2 separate regions of the Homo sapiens genome follow, and region 2 is linked to region 1. The links come from fine-mapping of genetic effects on gene expression. A gene starts in region 1. The other region holds a variant in brackets. All regions are shown on one strand. Distances are from middle to middle.

Region 1 (5,374 bases):
TAACTCAGCAGTAAACAGAAGGGACTCAGCTTCTAAGGAAGCATCTGGAAGGCAACTGGGAGTGGGACTCTCCCTATGGGGAGGCAAGGGGTTGTGTTTGAGGGAAAGTGGCCACCTTTCCCCATATCCAGGCAACCAGAGAATCCCAGTGTTAACTGGTGGAGAACACACCCCTGGGAGTGCTTAGCTTCAGTAGGTGGCAGCGGCCATCACATTCCTGACTTTTAAGGCAACCTGGTCTAGCTAGAAGACCCAGGTTCTACACTCATCTGCTCAGTGCGATGCTGAGGCAGGACCTTGCCCTCCTTCCTTGGGCCTCAGCCTCCTCTGCTGCACACGGATTTGGACCAACTGGAGTTCTCAGAGGTCCCTTCCAACCTTGACCTTCTAGGAAGTCTTTTGGGCACTCCACCCCCAGCTCAGGCAGAGGGAAGAGTACTTTTTGCCTGTACTGAAAAACCCTCATACGTGGGCACACAAACCACCTCCATCTTTTCACAAAAAGGAAGTTCCCCTTCTACCTTCCAGCCCCAACCCCTCCAAAAACATCTTGCTCTCTGGCCCTGGAAACTAGCTCCACCTTCAGACTTGCCAAAAACTACCAGATTCATCACAAAGAGCTGTGGCGCCTCCTGGATTCCCAACTCTGGCCTCCTACTCCCATCTCTGAGCTACTTGGCAGGAAGAGGAATCCTGTTCCTCGACTCACAGCAGTCGGGGGCCCCAGTACCCTGGCTTCCCTGCCAGCCAATCACAGCAGCCTGCTTGCTGCCCTCCTCCCTGGGAGATGGGGCCCAGAGACTCCTCTCAGGGTCAGCAGAAGACTTGGCCCGCCACAGAGCAAGGTGGAGGAAGGTGCCAGCTCACCCACCCTCTCCCCCAGCCTCCCTAGGAGACAATCTGCATGTCCTAAATAACCTCTTCCAGATCCAGCAGCTCCCCCGCCTCCTCCCCAGGCTCCTTCTGAGGCGGGACAGAACCGGTGACTTTCCTGCCCGGCCTGAGCCCAGCCCAAGTTTCCAGCAAGAGGCCCAGGGAGCCACTTCCCAAACCACAGGAGTGACAGCAGCTCCCCACAGGGTTATGAAAGACCTTGGTCAGAGAGGGCGGGCCAGGGGAGGGGGCACCATTATCACATCGGAAGCAGATGCAGCTCACCTCCCTGTCTGTCCCTCAGCTTGGGCCTTGGGCTAAGGGGGGAAGAGGGAGCTGTTTCCACCAGGCCCAAAGCAGCTGCTCCAGTTCCTCAGAATGAGGACGAGGAAGGATTAGGAAGAAGCTGTTTCTTCCGGGATATAAGAGGAAGCAAAGAAGGTGGGATGAAATACATCAGCCCTTCCTTAAAGCAATCAGGGCCTGGCTTTAATTGGCTCTGGGAGGCTTTTCTATCACAAAGTCCACATGAGGATAAAGACTCAACCAAGGCAAAACCCCCTCCCCCACATGAAGCACATTCCACTCCCCTACTCCAGTGGGGGTGTGCAGGCATGCCCTTCTGCTGCCAATAAATAACTCATGGTGGCTGCGTAAACCCAGAGGCAAAGTACTAGTGAGTGTAGACATGCAATTTGACTTGTTGCTATCTGGGGGAAAGACCAGGAAGGAGTGGCATCCCCTGGAGGTCAGGAGGAGGGGGTTTAATGCCTGCCTGCAGCTCAAGCCTGGGCGGGAGTGATACTAACCATCACACCACAATGCCCCATCGTTTGTTCCACCCCAATTCCTTTCCCAAAGGTCCTGATCCCCTTGCTTCCTCTCCAGGGGGCAGAAAGCCTCTGATATCTCAAGCTTTCCTTTTCCTGGAAAGTGGGGAGACAATACGTGTCGGGGGTGGGGGGAGTTACACACGCACCCGCAACTGGCGGGGAGAGACAGCGTGGTCGGTGTAGATGCACAGTTTTTCGATGGTCAGGGGCGTGGTCTCGCGCAGCTTGGAGGCCAGCAGCATGCAGACCGCACCCAGGAGCTGCAACTGCGCCTTTCGGGTGGGGACGCAAGACAGGTAGCGATCCAGGTAGTTCATGGCCAGGGGGAAGACTTCCTCCTCACAGCGCTGCTCCTCACATACCTGGGGGAGGGCGCACAGTCACTGCTGGGTCTGGAGCGTGGGGAACACAGCAGCGGGGGGGTGGGAGCGCTGAAGTGAGGTGGGATAGGGAGCAAAAACGGCAGAGAGGGTAAGCTACTTAGAGAGACAAGGACCAATAAAGGAGGAGGATGCGCCCTCCCCAAGGTGACGCCCCCCACTTCCTCTGCGCGGCCTCCTCCCCTCTCCCCTTGACGGGGGAGTGGTAAAGCCAAGGAGCCCTTGCTCACGGAGGATTCCAAACGGAGACTCCCCTCCCCCACAGCGAGGGGAAGTGGGACGCAAGGGTCACCCATGGTAGCCAGAGAGCTGGGACCTCACCCCCATCACCGCCACCACTGCACACACCCGAGGGGAAGGGAGGAGGCTCCTGCCGCTGCCTCCTGCACTTTTCATTTCCCTGTCGGCCGGAACAGGGCGCGCGCCACCCCCATCGCCTTCCCCGCCAGAACCCCGCGAAAGACACAGGAACCGGCTCCCGGGCGGGGGCGGCCGAGCCCAGGGTTTTCCAGGCGCGCTCTCCGGAGAAGGCCGGGAGGCGGAGGGAAGCGGGAGACGCTGTGAGAAGCCGAAGGGGAGAGAGTGTCCTTGGTCCCGTTTGCTCGGCCCGAAGAGAGGCACAGTTAGGGTGCCAAGTGACTGGCAGTCACTGTCGGGAGGAGCCGATTAGGGCTCGGGAAAGCAAGGGAGGCAGCTGGCGTGGGTGCCCTAGTGAAAGGCCAGGCCCCGGGAGTCTTAGCCTCGGAGCATCCTGCAGATTGCTGTGGGGACCGGGATGTCCCGACAGGGCGGCCCCGGTGTGTCCAGACCCGGGAGCGGTGGGGGAGGGGGACGCGTCCGGGCGGTACCTCCAGCATCCAGTAAGCCAGCATCTTCCGCATGTGCGGCTTGATCTCCCGCTGCACGCACTGGAAGTAGGAGGCGCGGGGTACGTAGCGCTCCTCCAGGCGGAGCAGGCTCTGCAGGACACGCTGGTCCCCCAGCAGCCGCGGGTCCGGCCCGGCCCGGGGCGCGTGCCGGGTGCCTTCGCAACACAGCAGCTCCATACTCGGGCAGCGAACAGGCAGGGCGGGAGTGCGGGCTCGCGAGTCCCAAGGCAGGCGACGGGCCGGAGAGCGCGGGGCGCGGGTCTGGCGCTGGCGCTGGCACTGCGCGGCGGATCCCCAGCCCGCCCGCCGCCCGCGCGCGCGCGCCGCTTCCCTGACAGGCGCCCCGCCCCTCGCGACGATGTAGCAACCGTGGAATGCTCGGACGTCGCAACGCTCCGAGGGGCGGGGCTGCGGCGCCCCGGACGGAAAGGGTTGGCTGAGCGCTCTCCCCTCCCTCCCGCGGCCCCATTGGGCCGCTGAGCGCAAGCCGGCCGGCTTCCGGGCACTCCAGGCCCTCTGGACCACCGGGTGCAGAGAACTTTCTAGGAGGTGGGCCTCCTACCCACCCACGGGCCCTCCCATTTTGCTTCTCGGACTCTAGTCACCCAGGAAACAATTTTTCTCCAAAGGTCATTCATTCACTTATTCATTCGTCAAACCCTACTTCACCGGCTGCTTGCTCTAAGGAATGCGATAAATAATGTCAGAGCTAGTTCTTAGTGAACGCTGCTCGAAAGCCTCACGATGTAATGACTCACTACATCTTCACGAAAACTCGGAAACCGAGGCAACTGTCATTCAGTTGGTCCGTGGCAGAGCTAGGATTGGGAAGCTGGCCTTCTTGCTGCAGATTCTGTGTTCTACACCATTGCTAGTTAAACTGTGATCCCAGACCTGTCCCGTGCGTGGTCATCGCCTGGGAGCTGGTTAGAAATGCAGACTCTCAGGCCCACCCCTAACCTGAATCAGAATCTGCATTTTAACTAGATTTCTGTGCACTTTAAAGTATGAGAGCTTTAGTCTAAGTCAGCATATAACAGAACGGAAAGGCCATGGAGTCATGGCCTCACCTTGTTAAGTTGCTTGCCTAGGTTTGGACAAGCCCCTAAAGTCGGCCTTAGTTTCTGTTTGGAGAAACTGTGGACGGAGAAACTAGATTCTCATTGAATCAGTTTCTTGCACAGACTCTGTGAGATCTACCGGTTGCATTTCTTCCACCTCCCAAACTTTTGGTTACTTTGTAGTTTTACCGGAAGCTAGATTCCACTTGACGAAGAGGCCGAAAAAGACCTCCAATAATGCTCCAAATGGGAGGAGGCCATGAGGATCCCTGCCCTACTGGGGTCCTCCTGACTTAGGAGACACTAAGGAAGTGTCTAACCATTTTCTGTTAATTATTCTTTTTTTTTTTTTTTTTTTTTTTTGAGACGAAGTCTCACTCTGTTGCTCAAGCTGGAGTGCAGTGGTGCGATCTGGGCTCACTGCAACCTCCACCTCCCGGGTTCAAGCAATTCCCGAGTAGCTGGGACTACAGGCACGCACCACCATGCCTGACTAATTTTTGTATTTTTCGTAGAGATGGGGTTTCACTATGTTGGCCAGGCTAGTCTTGAACCCCTGACCTCGTGATCCGCCGGTCTCGGCCTCCAAAAGTGCTGGGATTACAGGCGTGAGCCACCGTTCCCGGCCGAATTATTCTTTCTTATATTATAAATTGTATTGTAGTTTTCATATCATAAAATATTCTTTTACATTGTAGAAAACTTCAAAAATACAAATAAGCCACAAAAAAAGGAAATAATCATTTGCAATTTGCCATGAAATAACCCTTTAATATATCAATGTTTATTTTTCTAATCTTTGTTCTATGAATAAACACACATTTTAAATGGAATCATCACAAACTGTTTTGTAAGCTTTTTTCATTAAAAAAATACTGTTAACACTTTTCCATGCTATTAAATATTCTAGGACATAATTTGTAATAGGGACATAATATACCATTAGGTGAATGTACAAAATGTATTTTGGCAAACCTGTATTGGTGGAAATTTAAATTATTTCTAGTTCTTCTCTATTAGACATAATACTGTAAAATATTTTTGTGGTAATATCTTTGTGCACACTCATGATTATTTCTAGAAGTGAATTAATTTCTAGAAGTGGAATTTCCCAATCTAAGGTTATGAAACATTCTAAGGCTTTTGATACACTTCTAATTGCCAAATTTTCCTGCTGAATAGTTAAACCAATCTTTTCCACCATCATTACATATCTATTTTTCAAAACAACTCTGCCAACTAGAGAGTGAAAGTGGCTTATTAGTAATAATAAATCTATTTTGGCATATTACTAGACATTTACATTTCTTATGTACATTACCCATTCATGTCCTTAGCTTATTCATTTATAGGGATGT
Region 2 (5,374 bases), 110 kb before region 1:
TAACCTCAAAACCTGAGATAGCAGCTTTCCCACTTTATCTCTTCTCTAAAACAGTTTAATTCTTCTATGGTTTATCTGTTCCATGAAGGTCTGATAAAACTTACCTGTAAACCTGTCTCATCTAGGCATTTTGTAGGATTGTTTCAATGTTTAATATAGCTAAGTTCAGATGAAGATCCAAAAATCCTCCCAGTGATCACAGGTCTCCAAGTCTTGGGAAATTATGCCTTGGTAACCTAGTGTCTACTTTAACCCCTACAGAAATTCCATATAAGTTTATACTTTTGAAAATAAATAAATAGTATGTTAATGACAGACAATGATGGAGCAAACAAAACAGATTTGCAACCAATTCAAATTTAGGAAAGCAGGCCAGGCGTGGTGGCTCACACCTGTAATCTCAGTACTTTGGAAGGCCAAGCCAGTGGATCACCTGAGGTTAACCAGTTCGAGACCAGCCTGGCCAACATGGTGAAACCCCATCTGTACTAAAAATACAAAAATTAGCTGGGCATGGTGGTGCATACCTGTAATCCCACTCAGGAGGCTGAAGCAAGAGAATCACTTGAACCTGGGAGGTGGCGGTTGCAGTGAGCCAAGATCGCACCACTGCACTCCAGCCTGGGCAACAGAGCAAGACTCCGTCTCAAGAGAAAAAAAAAAAATTTAGGAAAGCAGCACGAAGCACCAGTGCTGACTGGCCAAGAGATTGTTATACACTGGTGCTACCTGTACAGGCTGATTGATAGGAACCTCCACACAAGATAACCTGCATTGTCACTATAAAAGGTAGAGCTATCGACTGGGATTGGTGACTCATGCCTGTAATCCCAGCACTTTGGGAGGCAGAGGTGGGCAGATCACCTGAGGTCAGGAGTTCAAGACCAGCCTGGCTAACATGGTGAAACCCCGTTTCTACTAAAAATACAAAAAATTGCCAGGCGCAGTGGCTCACGCCTGTAATACCAGCACTTTGGGAGGCTGAGGCGGGCAGATCACGAAGTCAGGAGTTTAAGACCAGCCTAACCAACATGGTGAAACCCCGTCTCTACTAAAAATACAAAAATTAGCCGGGCGTGGTGGCATGCACCTGTAACCCCAGCTACTCAGGAGGCTGAGGCAGGAGAATCGCTTGAACCCAGGGGGTGGAGGTTGCAGTGAGCCGAGATTGTGCCGCTGCACTCCAGCCTGGGCAACAGAGCGAGACTCCATCTCAAAACAGAAATAAAAATAAAAATAAATAAAAATACAAAAAATTAGCTGGGCGTGGTGGTGCGCACCTGTAATCCCAGCTACTCGGGAGTCTGAAGCAGGAGAATTGCTTGAACCCAGGAGGCAGAGGTTGCAGTGAGCCGAGACCGTAACATTGCACTCCAGCTTGGGCAACAAGAGCAAAACTCCATCTCAAAAAAAAAAAAAAAAAAAGTAGAGCTACCATTTTTGAAATAAACTAATCATTTTTCTTCACCACTAACTCTCTTGAGCTTCTAAATCCATACTGCACATTAAACATTACTCCAAACTAAAATTAAAACCACCACCACAACAACCCATAACCTCCGCTTTTAATGGGCTGTCTGTATGATAAAGTCCAAGTTCCTCAGACAGACCTTCAAAAGTATCACATACAATCTGACCCCAAACAAGCTTCTCATATTATCTCCCACCCTTTCTTTGTGTCCAAACAACCAGATGGACTGGTCTACTCACTATTTCTTCAGACGTCCCAAGAACAGTCAATTCCTTGAGATGCTATCCTTCCTCTTCTGTACTAACCCTCAAAAGCCAGCTTAGGTCCTGTCCTTTTTTAAAGGCTTTTCCTGACCATTCTACTACCCAGTGAATCTCTCCCTCAAAGAACACCTCATTGTTCACAGTCCTCAATTGTTTTATCTGGTTTACTAACCATAGTCCAAACTCCTTAAGGCAAAGTCTGTACTGTTTTTTTTTTACCATTCACCCCCTGCACAAGGCTCTTGATATAAAGAACTAAGAACTTGACCCCAAATCTTTCCTGGGCATCTTTTACTCATGTTACCTGATAGTCTTGATTTGTAATTCTAGGTGGAGCTGCTTCCCTTTGATAAATTAACTGAACAGAGACAATTATCTTCTGAAATTCTGTGATGATAGCTCATTTAACCTATTCTCTCCCAGTTCTAGCTCCTTTACAGGGCACTATGTAAGACTATCATGCTTTCCTAGCTACATATGTATGTACTGGCAAATGCCTAAGTCCTAGTATAAACAAAATTGGGTATGTGCAGGCAAAAAAGTCAAATGTTTAAAAAGACTTGGCTTTCAATAAACAGCTCACACACATGGTGTGTTGCTTGCAAAGAGAAAAAACAAGCACGGTAAGGATGCCATTTTTAATGGCTCCCAAAAATATGACATACTTAAACGTGTTTTTTTCCAACTAGAAACCTGGTGTTATTATGAGGACTGGGTTGTTCAAGGATACCAGCGTCCATGAAAGGGTATTTTTGGCAAGCACTTTATCACTAGAAATTAGTCAAAAAAAAATTTTCTGAGCACTCGCCTACAATATACCAAACACTATGCTTTAGGTGTAGAAATCAGCCAAAACAAGATTAGGCAACATTACAAAAATATCAACTAACTAAAATGATTGACTAATTGGATGTCTTAAATCTTAAAACACTAGAATAATTTAATTGCATTGCCATGGTATCTGCACTCAGTAGTTTATTCCTGCTGGGTGTCCAAAGATCAGTGCCATAGAAATTCAGTATCTAGCATCACTGATTTTCTTGGCTTTGTGCTTGTTAAAACTTGGTATTTCTATTGACACAGTATTTCTTTTTTTCTTTCTTTCTTTTTTCTTTTTTTTTTTTTTGAGACAGAGTCTCGCATTGTTGCCCAGGCTGGAGTGCAGTGGCGCGTCCCCGGCTCACTGCAACCTCCACCTCCCAGGTTTACACCATTCTCCTGCCTCAGCCTCCCGAGTAGCTGGGACTACAGGTGCCCGCCACCATGCCCGGCGAATTTTTTGTATTTTTAGTAGAGATGGGGTTTCACCGTGTTAGCCAGGATGGTCTCGATCTCCTGACCTCATGATCCGCCCGCCTCGGCCTCCCAAAATGCT[G/A]GGATTACAGGTGTGAGCCACCACGCCCGGCCTTGACACAGTATTTCTGTAGTTCTATAGTTTCCTCATACTGTTCAGATTCATATAGTCTTCAATAGCAGCTAGAAAAAACTCACTAAGAATAAATATAATCAAATATTTCTTTTATTCTTTTGCTTCTCAGTAAATGTTTTCTCATTAATTCTCAGTAGAAATAATTTCAGAATTATAATAATAAAGTATTTAAGCACTGACAGGAAACGCTACTCCAATAACTTCTTCCATACTCGAACAATTTTTGAAAGATTTTAGAAAAGTGATTCTAATTTGAAATTCAAATAGTGCAAATAAATCCATGTAAAATAACTATACCAAACCTTCTCTCTCAGTAGTTCTTATTGGTATGGGTAAAAATATAGGTTAAAATAAGGCAAAGGTGGACAAGATTATCACAGCATGTGTGTAAGATTTCTGAAATGTAAGAAGTAGTAGCAAGATTTCTGGACCCTAGAAAGGGCCAAATGATGAGGTTTGGGGTGATAGTACATTTGGAAAACCCTATTTATTAACCTAGTCCACACTATTCAGCATGTGATTTCAAATCTGTCTTGGCAGTTTATCTACGAAGCTGTTGCTGAATTCTGCCCTTTTGGCAAAACACTTCCAATGTTGGTAAAGTGAGCACAAAACTAGAAAACATGTTGAGTATATTAAGTGGGTCCACTTTGTTTAAAACTTTAAACAAAGCTTTCACCTGTACACATATTTGAATAGCTAAGAACATTGAAACATGCACGCCCATCACTAGGAAGAAATCAAAGTAGGCAACTAAAGGAAATTTGTCCTATTTAAAGTTCTCATGAGTTCTTCTGCAGTATGGGGCATTCTTGGGTCTCTGATGTCCTTGAGATGTCTGACCTATGATTCTCTAGTTAATAACTACCAATTCCATTCCTATGATACCCATACTTTACCTCACTCTATCATAACATCGAGCACTGAGCACTATCTAAAAAGTCTCTCATGCTGTTGAGAAAATGGAAACAATGATTATACAATAATAACAGCAATAAAAATTAGTAAAGAACATCAAGTATCAGGTATTTTTCATATCTTCTCTAGTCCTAAAATGCCCAGACACTATTATCCCGATTTTATATATGAGGATCTTGAATATCAGAGAGGGTAAATGATATGGTTTGGATCTGTGTCCCCACCAAATCTCATGTTGAATTGTAATCCCCAGTGTTGGAGGTGGGGCCTGGTGGGAGGTGACTGGATCAAGGGGGCAATTTCTCATGAATGATTTGGCACCATCCTCTTGAAGCTGTTCTTGTGATAGTGTGTTCTCACGAGATCCAGTTGTTTAAAAGTGTGTAGCACCTCAACATTCTCTATTTTGCTCCTGCTCCAGCCATGTAAGATGTGCCTGCTTCCCCTTCACCTTCCGCCATGATTGTAGTTTCCTGAGGCCTCCCCAGAAGCAGATGCCACTATGCTTCCTGCAGAATCATGAGCTGATTAAACCTCTTTTCTTTGTAAATTACCCAGTCTCAGGTATTTCTTTATAGCAATGTGAGAATGGACTAATACAGTAAGTATTCTCAAGAACACTCACATAGAAAATAGCTGAGTCAAGGTTCCAGCTCAGTACTGCCTATCTTCAGTTTTTATAATATATGATTGTATTCAAGAAATAGGAAAGAAAAAAATAATGTTAAGAGTAGAAGTGGAGAGATGGTAATAAGGAAAGAAGACTGATGATTCTTAAGGAGATGAATCACTCTAAGCCCAAACCACCACTAGTCTTCAATCTGGGTCTCTACCCACCATCAAAGGGGCAATCATTAGGTTAGAGAACACAGCTTGCTTACCACTGGGTGCTGTGTCTTATATTTGCTTGGTATATCCCAGAGGGGAAAAGACTTAATAATGACTTTTGGATGGGTGGATGAGATGGAAGGATGACAAACGCACATTTAGCATGCAAAGGAGTCTTTAGCCAACTTAAACGAATGCTCATGCCATTAACATTTCCATTACAAGATTCTGAAATGCAGTCATGAAAGCCAATTTAATTGCAATTTAGATTTGCTAGGTTAGTCAAGTATGGAAAATGGAAGGAATTGGGAAGTAAACACAACTGTTATTTTAAGAACTGGAAAATCTGGCCGGGTGCAGTGGCTCACGCCTGTAATCCCAGCACTTTGGGAGGCCGAGGTGGGTGGATCACGAGGTCAAGAGATCAAGACCATCCTGGCCAACATGGTGAAACCCCGTCTCTAC

What was found. PIP is the estimated chance that this variant, and not a neighbour inherited with it, causes the effect.
Region 2: its variant is the best candidate, but not a certain one, in a credible set for the expression of CCND3 in whole blood (INTERVAL, PIP 0.77).

Annotation. Positions count from the first base shown.
Region 1 is chr6:41,938,518-41,943,891 of GRCh38, forward strand. It overlaps CCND3 (cyclin D3), which reads right to left and starts at 3,291. Exons shown (of 5, transcript NM_001760.5): 1 at 2,935-3,291; 2 at 1,853-2,068. The coding sequence starts at 3,132. RefSeq lists enhancers at 1-577, 578-1,393, 974-1,268, 2,350-2,479, 2,522-3,473 and a silencer at 2,990-3,439.
Region 2 is chr6:41,830,175-41,835,548 of GRCh38, forward strand. The region is part of intron 3 of USP49 (ubiquitin specific peptidase 49); the gene reads right to left. It overlaps LOC124900222 (small nucleolar RNA SNORA8), which reads left to right and starts at 2,680; the gene lies at 2,680-2,819. The variant G/A (reference allele first, on the strand shown) is at 3,110.